Linked DNA regions of Homo sapiens. The protein of the gene in region 3 interacts with the protein of the main gene of each other region in a biochemical or structural test. Each region holds a gene or a part of one and is shown on either strand. Other genes may lie near its edges.

What was found.
Region 1: of the proteins of PELI1 (region 3) and IRAK1, one has a biochemical effect on the other in vitro, tested with the Homo sapiens proteins (5 studies listed by BioGRID and IntAct, with this or other methods).
Region 2: of the proteins of PELI1 (region 3) and IRAK4, one has a biochemical effect on the other in vitro, tested with the Homo sapiens proteins (4 studies listed by BioGRID and IntAct).

Annotation. Positions count from the first base shown.
Region 1 is NC_000023.11:154,018,466-154,022,214, forward strand, and holds the start of IRAK1 (interleukin-1 receptor-associated kinase 1), read right to left. Parts: upstream 1,438-3,749; 5' UTR 1,348-1,437; coding exon 1,212-1,347; coding exon of another isoform or gene 1,134-1,211; coding exon 966-1,133; intron 864-965; coding exon 732-863; intron 614-731; coding exon 510-613; intron 323-509; coding exon 134-322; intron 1-133.
Region 2 is NC_000012.12:43,768,869-43,772,617, forward strand, and holds part of IRAK4 (interleukin-1 receptor-associated kinase 4), read left to right. Parts: intron 1-2,169; exon of another isoform or gene 2,170-2,236; intron 2,237-2,351; coding exon 2,352-2,497; intron 2,498-3,311; coding exon 3,312-3,494; intron 3,495-3,749.
Region 3 is NC_000002.12:64,137,755-64,141,503, forward strand, and holds part of PELI1 (E3 ubiquitin-protein ligase pellino homolog 1), read right to left. Parts: intron 3,033-3,749; exon of another isoform or gene 1-3,032. UniProt on the Homo sapiens protein: E3 ubiquitin ligase catalyzing the covalent attachment of ubiquitin moieties onto substrate proteins. Involved in the TLR and IL-1 signaling pathways via interaction with the complex containing IRAK kinases and TRAF6.

The DNA.
Region 1 (3,749 bases), on a different chromosome or scaffold from region 3:
ACCAAGGGGCCAGGGACCCTACGCCAGAATGAGGGCTGAAGGAGTTGTGTGGGGAAGCGAGGGGGAAAGGCTGGAGAAGTGGTGAGGGTTATCTGATGGCCTTCCAGGGTCCCTGCCAGGGTGCGACACTCACCTCCTTCAGCCTCTTCACAGCATACACCGTGTTCCTCATCACCGCCCGGTACACGCACCCAAAGCCACCCTCCCCGATCTTGAGCTCCTCCGAGAAGTTGTGGGTGCCCCGGGAAATCTCACAGAGGGGCCAGCAAAACGGAAAGGGGCGGGCTCCCTGCAGGAGGGACACTGAGCTCTCTGGGCCTGGCTGTGGGAAGAGAGCCTGGATCAGGTGGGGTCCCTGTCTCTTCCCTTCTGCCCAAGGCTCCAGGCTCTCCCCACCACAGCTGCCTCCCAGCTGACCCAGCTTGGCTGACTGGGGCTCTGCGCTACATCAAAGGCTGAATTCCTTCCTCCTTGTCTCGAATCTTCCCTGGGGGGCAGGGGACACCTACCTTGGTAGAAGAAGGGGCTGGAGATGGCGGTGGAGGCCACAGGGAAGCAGGGCTTGGGACCAGGCCGAGCTCAGGCCCTGAATGGGTCTGGGAGCCTGGAAAAGCTTCATAAAGACACCAGTGAGAGGCAGGCAGAGACCAGCAGCAGGGTCTACAGCCGTGGCCGTGGTCAAGGTGGGCTCTTCTTTGGGTCCACCGAGCCTAACAACCGGGCCCTCTTACCTGGGGAGAGGAAGGTGGAGGCTGAGGATGGCAACTTCCGGGGGCTCCAGGCCTCGGCCTCGGCGGGTGCAGGGATGCTGCTGGGCCTCGGGGCAGTGGTGCCTGGGGACGGAAGCGGGGCGGGAGGGTGCCCTGGGACGCCAAGGAAGGAAAGGAAGGTTGAGGCCCGGGTGGGGGAGCCCCGTGGGGCCCGCCGGCCTCCCAGCCGTGGGGTGCCCGGAGTCCCGCGCTCACAGGCTGTGATGATGTCCCGCGCACGGAGCAGCTGCAGGTGCGTGAGGATGTGCACGAGGTCGGCCACACGGGCGTTGCGGTTGATCCAGGGCCACAGGACGCTGGCCGTGCGCTGCCCGGAGCGCTCGCACAGCCGCAGCTCGGTCTGGTCGCGCACGATCAGGGCGGCTGCGGGGCGGGGGGCGTCAGGCGTCGGCGCCAGGAGCCCGCGCGCCTCCCGCCCCCCGGCAGCCCGCCGCCACCCACCGAACTGGCACCAGTCGGCGGGCTCCAGGGCGTCCATCACTTTGTAGAAGCGGCACATGACCCAGGGCGGCACCTCGTACAAGAAGTGCTGGGCGCCGGGGGCTGCGGGCTCCCCCGGGCCCGGCCCCCCGGCCATGGCTGCCGCCGCCGGGCCGGGACCTGCCGGGGCCTCTCAGGGCCGCGGCGGGCGCGGGCCTGGGCCGGCCGGGTCCGCGGACACTGACTCACTTCCCCTTCGAGCCGGCCTCGTGCGACGCCCGGCGGGGCGGAAGGGGCGGTGCCCGGGCCCGCCGCCATCTTGCGCGCCGCGGCCGCGCGCTGGGTCACACGGGGGCGCCCCGCGCCGGGGAGGGCCCGGGTCCCGGCGGGTTCCGCGAGCGGCGATCGGCCTCCCGGGCTCGCCCGGGCGGGGCTCTGGAGGACGAACGGCGGCTCCCGGCGTTGGGGACAGAGGGCAGGGCGGAGGCCCGGGCTGCTCGGAAAGGGGCCGGGGCCGGGCCTTCCGAAAGCTCCTGGGCGGCCCTGCCGGAACCCTGCTCTCCACTGCGGCCTGCAGGGCTGTTACCAGGAGCCCTGCCTGCCCGCCCCACGTCTAGCCCCCTGCACACGGCAGCAGCCTTGAGCCATTCAGTCTCCTTAGGTGTCCTGAAATATGCCGAGAACGCTGCCCGCCACAGCCGTGAGTGTATGCGTTGCTGCTGCCCCAGCCCTCATTTGGCAAGGGTGAGCTCAGGCAGCTGTGGTGAAGGCTTCCTGAGCCCGCCGGCAGAGCTCCTGCCACCCCGTACCTGTCCCCTCCTGGGCATCGTCCTTGATTACTTGTCTGGACCGCCACCCCCGGTCCCCGCCCTGAGATGGGGAAGACCCCACAAGCAGCAACGCAGACTTACTCTTTTGTTTCTCCAGCTGGATGTCTCCTCCAGCGACAGTTCCCCTTGCCCTCTTGATCCTGACAGCGAAGGGGTTCCCCACCCCTAGCCCTACAGACTTAGGACTTTTCCTAGAAACGAGAAGTGCCCAAGGCCCACAGCTGGCCCCTGTTGGAGTCTCTTTCCTGAAGCCACCACCACTGTGGCCACTCCCAAGGAAGATGCCAACCATACCATGAAACCCATGGCTTCTCACGGGACAGACTTTACTGAGATGTACCAACTCAAGTATCTGAAATGACTGCACACCCATGCTAACCTCCACGGGGGCACTTGGTCCTACTTACACACAAAGGCCCATCAGCTCACGGAACAGGGCTGGCATACGAGATGCTCAATGCATACAAGTTGACTTTTCAACCCTGGGATCTACCTTTGAAGGCCAGGCCTTCCGAGGGTACCTTCTAGCATGTGCATGTGAAGCTGGACTCCTTTGAGCAGTTGTCTCCTCCAGCCCCTTACCAACCTGGTGAGGCTGCTCCTGAGAGCCAAGGAAGCCAGTAACAAGGGGGCCCCCTTTGGGCAAACCCCTCAGCCTGCCCTTGCCTGGTCAGAGAACCACGTTAGCAGTCAACAGAGGGCACGTGAGGGTCCTGGCCAGAATGAGACACAGGAGGAGCCACAGCCTGCGGGGGTGGGGGTGTCCAAAAGCACCACAGCACATCCAGACCTAGGGGGTGCCCCTACCATACGGGTCTGGAGCAGGGAGGTTGTGCTGCAGGCTGACTCATGCCAGGCCCTTCCCGTCACACGCTGGAGCAGTGTGCCTGGAGAGCACTGGCTTGGAAGAAGCTGAGGGGCCAGCGAGGCCAGCATATGGAGGAGGCTTCCCTTGGCCGCTCGTGGCAGGCCTGAAGGCAGCTACCTGTGTCCAGGGACAGCCAGATCCAATGAGGAAACGCAGCACCATGCTGTCATGTGAGCTGGAGGGGGACTTCTGTCTTATAATGAAAGCCCAGACCTTGAGTCACTTTCACAGAGAGATTTATCGAGAATGCTAACAGCACAGGATACAGTACTTCCCAACAAAAGGTGCAAACGCGTCACTTAGAAAGGCATGCTGAGTATTCTTTGCTTTCACATGTATTAAAAAACTTACAAAAATAAAATAAAACTGCGTGCTGCCCATCTTTTCCAATAGTAAAAGAACCTTATGAAAAAATCACTTGATTTTTACAACAAAAGACACAAACGGACATTTTTATGTAAATTTATAAGGCAAACTCTTTATATAATAAATAGGTTACAGGGATTCAGTGGGGGGGGGGTGTTTTTGAAACGTATACAGGTACATTCAGACAGGTTTACTGAAATGGTACAAATTTCCTTAATAAATTGCCTTTTGTTTTTAAATATATCAGTGCTTTCAGTCATTTGGCTATACACAAAGAACCTTTTTTCTGAACACTACAAAAAAGCAATCAATAATTTTTGTTTTTAAAACGACCTACTTATTTTCTAAAGTAATTGTCCCAAAACACAAAAACTGAAGGTGAATACGATACAGGGCTTTTAGAGACATCTCCAGCTAAGTGTGTCCCGGCCTCTCCCTGTGCCCCAAGTGCACCTCTCCCAACCTCAGACAGGTTTCCAGGCTGGAGCCAGCTCC
Region 2 (3,749 bases), on a different chromosome or scaffold from region 3:
TGCAGTTAAAACCTATGTCAAAATGTTTCTTTGGTAGCAAAAGGAAAAGAAGACTATTTGTTATTTTCAGCATTAATCTGGGAAAGAACCTAAAAGACTTGGCTCCCTTGCAGGAAATATTTCCTCATAAGAAGAGCGAACATGTTAAATTACTTGAAAGAAGCTTAAGTTTAAACTGTGTTAAGCCAATGTTTAAAGATAATTTTTTGATATTACTGTTAAAAACTTATGGAAGATAATTGGGGCAGTGGTGGCAGGAAGATAAAGCTCTTCTCTTTTTTTTTTCTTTTTTCCAAGACTCATTCCTGTGACAGAAAAAGCTTTTCTTTACAGAATAATACCTGCAAATAATTGTGAAAAGAATGGTAGAATGAGAAAAATACCTATTTGCAACCACCAATGAGTAACTGATTCATGCAAGGCTCATCACTGAACCTAAAAGCATAAGGTGAAAGGTGGTTGTTCTCGTGCATGTGAGCAGGATATGCACAAGATTTTAAAGTATTATAGGCTGAGCACAGTGGCTCATGCCTGTAATCCTAACACTTGTGGAGACCGAGGTGGGCAGATTGCTTGAGCCCAGGAGTTCAAGACCAGCCTGGACAACATGGTAAAACCCCATCACTACAAAAAATTAGCTGGGTGTGGTAGTGCACGCCTGTAGTCCCAGCTACTTGGGAGGTTGAGGTGGGAGGATCACCTGAGCCCAGGAAGTCAAGGCTGCAGTGAGCCATGATCATGCCACTGCACTCCAGCCTGAGTGACAGAGCAAGACCCCCTCAATAGATAGAGAAAAAGTATTGTACACAAATTACTTGTGAAGTATGAAAGAGAAGGGTACATTTTTAATGAGGAAATCTGAAGTACACTTCCTTCACCAAGTGATCAAACTTTAGCACCAATAATAATGGTACAAAATGCTAATATGTACCCCTGGATGTGATACAATGGGAAAGGCACATTATACCTATGTAGTATTTCTACCAAAATGCTTAATCTGAATTTAATCATGAGAAAGTAGTCAGATAAATCTAGGCTGTTAGACCCATTCTATAAGACATCTGGCCCGTATTCTAAAACACACACACCCACAGACACAGATTGAAAGAGAGAATGCACAAGAGCCCAGATATGGCACAATTTTATCAATTATTCAATTGGTGAATCTAGGTGAATGGTTGTTCATTCTATCATTTTTTCAACTTTTCTGTAAGTTTGAAATTTTTAAAAATAAAATCTTTAGAGGAAAAACAGAAAGAAACAATATTGGTTAAATTTTTAAATGTTACTTTTCAAAACTAATTTTTGATTTTAAAGAAATGGAAAGAAATGGGTTGAAAGCCGACTTTGTGATTTTTTTCAATTTAATTGAATTACAGTTAAGATCAAAGGAATAATTTCCTAAGTTTTTGTGTGTTCTGTTTCTTTAATTAAGCAGGTGCATTTATTAAAAATTATATAGCTATCAGAGTCTTAAGTCATGTGGGAAGTAATATTGCTAGTAGATTAAGAATACACTCTTTTGTCAAATGAGATCTGAATTTGTACCTCAACTTGGATACATCATATTGGCTGTGTGGCTATGGGCTGGTTACTCTACCTCTCCAAGCCTGGCTTTTTCACTAGTAAATTCATATGATAATCATAATATCTTTGAACATGCTCATGTGTGTGCATCCTATAACCCACTAAGTAAATATCCAGTAAGTACCCAGTAAATTATTATCATCATCTTTGGCATCTTTTTTCCTCCTATCTTTCCTGTCTCTCTGTAATTCTTGCTGGTTCTCTTGTTGTCCCTTTTCTTTAATGTTGTAGGAGATGCTGTGGGCAAAATGGGCAGGGGAGATCAACACCTATTTTCATATGACCTCAGTTTATAAATGCTATTGTTTGAATGTGTCCCCAAAAGTTCATGTGTTAGAAACTTAATACCCATTGCAACAGGGTTGATAGGTGGGACCTTTAAAGGGTAGTTAGGCCATGAGAGCTTTGCCCTTATGAGTGGATTAATGTCGTCATGGCAGGAGTGGGTTAGTTATCTAGGGAGTGGGTTTCTGATAAAAGGATAAGTTAGGCCCTATTTTTCTTTTTCTCTCTCTCTCTTTTTTTTTCTCTTTCACATGCACGTGTGCATGCTCTTTTGCCCTTCTGCCCTTCCACCATGAGATGATGTAGCAAGAAGGCCCTAACCAGATGCAGCCTCTCGATCTTGGACTTCCCAGCCTCCAGAACCGTGAGCCAAATTAACTATTATTTATAAATTACCCTGTCTGTGGTATTCTATTATTGCAGCACAAAATGGACTAAGACAATAGACTAATTTTGTTTCTTTGTTACTTACTTTTAAGGAGATTTGAAGCATTACTTCAAACTGGAAAAAGTCCCACTTCTGAATTACTGTTTGACTGGGGCACCACAAATTGCACAGTTGGTGATCTTGTGGATCTTTTGATCCAAAATGAATTTTTTGCTCCTGCGAGTCTTTTGCTCCCAGGTAAACTGATTGTGACCAGGGTGTCCACAATTAGGGTGGAAAGACAAATGGCAGAAATATAAATGTTTCTTCTTACTCTTCCTTTTTTCTCATAGTAGATGAAGCTTACATTTGAGAGTCCCTTTCTTTCAGCACTCCTCAACTCTTTAAAAAGCAGCACAGACAAAGGACACTGTGGACTCTGCTGCTAAGGTGATAGAAGCTTCGTAAGAGTTAGATAGTTTTGTGCCAACAGGAAGTTTAGAAGGAAAGACTTCATACTTCTGGCTTAGGCTGTAAGAAAGTAATTATAATTTTGAGTTCTTCCTTTTTTTCATCTTCAACTTCTACCCTGATGGGACTCTATAATCATAATTTTAAAAAATTGTATTCTGATGTGGTAGTGTCTAGTTGCCTTCCTTATAAGCTTTCTTTTTTTCCTTTGATGCCTTTCACACCAGTGGTTCTCAACCTTTATCATGCATAAGAATCACTTAGGTTCTGGTTAAACATGTAGTTTCCTAGGGTCTGTTCCAAATCTATGTAATCAGAATTCTGGAATTGGGTTTAAGGTCTATATTCTTAAACAGGTGCTTCAGTGCCTCTGATATAGGTGGCTCATGGATCACTGTTTGAAAACACTGCCTTACTCTCTTTACCCATCTTCATTATAACTTACAGATTCTTACTAGGCAGCTTCTTGTGTGTGCTGTGAGAATATGAGACCAACCTGTAGAAACTGGAATGATATTAAATGAACCAAGTTTCTAGTTTAACTTTTTCACAACCACTTTTTCTTACTGAAAAACCACTTGTATCTTACTTCATTTGTTAGATGCTGTTCCCAAAACTGCTAATACACTACCTTCTAAAGAAGCTATAACAGTTCAGCAAAAACAGATGCCTTTCTGTGACAAAGACAGGACATTGATGACACCTGTGCAGAATCTTGAACAAAGCTATATGCCACCTGACTCCTCAAGTCCAGAAAATAAAAGTTTAGAAGTTAGTGATACACGTAAGTAACATTTTCAGTGCTTTCCACTAGGGATTTGTCATTAAGACTACCAGTGCTTTAAAAGAAAGCTCTTGCTCTTTTGTTTGTGCAGCAATCACAGGCACACTGGCAATAGCTCTTTTGTGAGTTGTTTCCTCCTGATATATTAAGAACCATCTTCATTGTATTAATCAGTGATTAGAGGCAATAGGACATGCAAACAACCAGAGAAGCTATGAAAAAAAATAAGTAAATATTTACATAACTTGGAAAGGT
Region 3 (3,749 bases):
AAATAACATGAAATATCACGTGGCCAATCACCCCTTTTTTCCTTAAAAACAAGGAGCAAATACAAAGTAATGAGCTATTTTCACGTGTGGCTCTTAAACTGGCTTAGACGACAAAAAAAATTTTTTTTTCTAAAAATATTGAGTAATGCTAGTATTGTTAAGTGTATAGCTTCCATGGTGACTACTCTAAAGTATAAGACTTATTTTAGATAAGTGTATAAAATATTTTTCCTTTAAAGATGGATAACCAGCCCTACACAATTTAGTCTTCTCTAACCTTCCTTTCCCATGCTGATGCTGATTTTATGTACTCACGCTCACCCTGATCTAGTTACGCTAGTTTTTTTTGTTTTGTTTTGTTTTTTTTAGACAGGATCTGGTTATGCTGCTCAGACTGGTCTGGAACTCCTGGGCTCAAATGATCCTCCCACCTCAGCTTCTTGAGTAGCTGGCACTACAGGTGCAAGCCACTATGCCTGGCTCACACCCTTGTCTTCTTGTAGTTTCTTGCAGTTGTAGGCACGCTCCCATCTCAGGGCCACTGCACTTACTATTCCCTCTGTGTATAATGTCTTGCTCCAAGGAGACCTGCAAGGCTTGCTGTGCTACCTCCTTCAGGTCATTACTCACTTTAACTATTTATCATCTTCTCAATGAAGTCTTTTCTCACTACCCTTTAAAACTGCATCTTGGCCAGGTGTGGTGGCTCCCACCTGTAATCCCAGCACTTTGGGAGGCGGAGGTAGGTGATCACCTGAGGTCAGGAGTTTCAGACCGGTCCGGCCAACATGGTGAAACCCTGTCTCTACTAAAAATACAAAACTCTACTGGGCGTGGTGGCGTGTGCCTGTAATCCCAGCTACTCAGGAGGCTGAGGTAGGAGAACCACTTGAACCCAGGAAACAGAATTTGCAGTGACCTGAGATCGCCCCACTGCACTCCAGCCTGGGTGATGAGAGCAGAACTCCATCTCAAAAACAAAAAACAAGAAACAAAAAGCAAAAAACTGCATCCTCCTCCGAACCTCATACACATATCCCATTTATTCTCCCTTCCCCTTCCCTGCTTTATTTTCCTGTTTGTGTGTAAAACTGTTTATTAGGGGAAATTTCAAACATACACAAAAATAAAGAGGAAGTAAGAAACCTCATGTATCCATATAGCATCTACCTTCAGCAATTTTCAATATATGGCCAATCTTGTTTCATCTATGTTCCTCTCCCTTTCAATATTTTGAAGTAAAAACCCACACATCACATTTTAAGTTGTAAACACTTCATTATACATCTCTAAAAGAACACTTAAAAAGTACATTCTCACACCTGAAAAAATGGACAAATCCTTTTCATTAAATATCCAGAGTCTAAATTTCCCCAATTTTGAATAAATGTCTTTTTACAGTTAGTTTGCTCAAAGCAGGATAGAACTAAGCTTCATACATTGCATTTGGTGGAAAAGCCTCTTAAGTCTCTTTTAATCTTATAGTTCTCCCTCCCTATTTCTTGCTATTAATTTTTTGAATAAATCAGGTCATTTTTCTTTTATTTATTTTTTAACTTCTATTGTTTTGAGGCAGGGTCTCGCTCTGTTGCCCAGGCTGGAGTGCAGTGGTGCAATCATGGTTCACTGCAGCCTCAATCTCCCAGGCTTAAGTGATCTTCCCACCTCAGCTTCCCGAGTAGTTGGGACCACGTCCAGTTAATTTTTTAAGAAACTTCTTTGTAGAGACAAGGTCTCACCACGTTGCCCAGGCTGGTCTTGAACTCCTGGACAAGAGGGATCTTCCCACCTCAGCCTCTCAAGGTGCTAGGATTACAGGTGTCAGCAACTGCGCCCAGCCATTTTTCTTAAAACGCAATGTATTTTATTTATTTTATGGTTTGTGTCTTATTACTAGAATGTAAACACCATGAAAGCAGAGATTTTAGTCTATGAGGTATCAGCATCTAGACCTGTGACATGTAAACGGCATCAATAAACACTGAATGTATTTGGCATCCATGCCAAAAGTCCACCGCTCACCAACAGCAGAAATTGCTAATCACAGTACTCTTTCCTGCTAAGTTTGAACAAGGACTCCCAGTTTTCTAAACACAGCACTCTAGGCAGCCACCACTAAACAATCAGATTTGGTACCCCAAACGAAATTTATTTGCTGTCCCTGCTTTAGCCCCCTTCAAAAGTGTACTATCCCTAAAACAGATTTCATTGCACCTTGTATGTTGAAATTTTAGCATGATAAATTACTGACTGTGTTTCTTGTCAACTACATTTAAACATTTCTTAGCTTATTTTAGACAGCTTAGGGGAAAAAGAAAACTGTAGCCAAAAAAATAATAGAAAAAGAAACTGCAGAAGATGGTGGGAAACCGCGGGTATTACATATTTTTAGAATTAGCAACATCCCAAGAGGCTCATTATAAAATAAAAATTAGCAACAAATTTTCTGAAAAGGAAGTAAATTACATGTGTGTTGAATTAATTTTTTTAAAAACTACATGAAGATTAACTGGAGGATGAAGACAGATGTCAGGATTTTCCCATTTATAGGCATCAGCAACACATTCTATTTTTCTGCAACTGGTATTTTGAGGTGTAAAGGTATTACAGGGGCGATACAAGAGTACTATGTAGAACCCCATTTCTCTGAAGTGGAGTTTATGTGGCAAAAAGAATCTAAAACATCTAGTACAACATTCCGAAAAATTGTCAATTCTTCTTAAGAGTCATTTACAATTCATTTCTGTTAAACTACCAGATGAAGCTCTCTTTCTCTAGGCTTATTTCTGAAGGTAGGTAAGCTAACTGAAAGACTCCAATCAGATGTTTATGTTTTGATTACTTTTTTCTATCAAAAAAGAAAAAAATTAGAAATTCCCTGACATCCATTCAAGAAACACTGTGCTTTCTCTTTATTACCTGTAAATTCATTAAACAACAAAAAGTATTTAGGACCTACTAAACATAGTATGTTAGGCAGTTATTTTCAGCCTTTGAAGGAAAAATAGAAGTGATCTACTCAAGACAACATGCAAAAAAAAAAAACAAACAAACAAAAAAAAACCTAGGGGCAGAACTTGAAATCATATCCAGATCTTTCAATGACCAATAATTCTTGTCTTGAGGTTCCCACACATTAGTCTAGGGAAATATTCTATGGCACAGGTCACACTTAAAACTAAGAAAATATAATAAGCACTTCCCCTCCCCCACTACCACAAGTGTAAAAAAATCTCCAAGAACCCAAATCCCTTGAAAGAATGACTTCTATTTACTTTGCCTGTGTAATATATTCAGAGGGAATCTGGAAAAGATGGCTAGAAATCTATAAACAGAAAGTGCTAAGTGGAATTCACTGTTTATAGACTTCAACTAGAATTTTGTCCCTTATATATAAATGCTGCCAACAATCTTTACATTGTATTATTTAAAAACATCTTCATCAGGTTTTCTTCACTTTGCTGATTTTCTTCCTTTTCTCACTGGCTTTTAAATCTGCTTTACTGTCCTCAAAGACATAAATGTAACTTTTGGAATAACATGTTTCCCGCCCCCACCCCAAAGGAGCTCCTAAAGCCACCTCAGTGCCATCATATATTAGTCATTATGAAATTTTAATATTTACAGTTAAATATATCTGTATAATAAAATAATCCAAAAAGCCTTTCTAACCTAATAAATACTAGGATAGGTCTACATTGATGTATTATGGTAAAATGTGTATGTATATATTAGTTTTCAATTCTAAG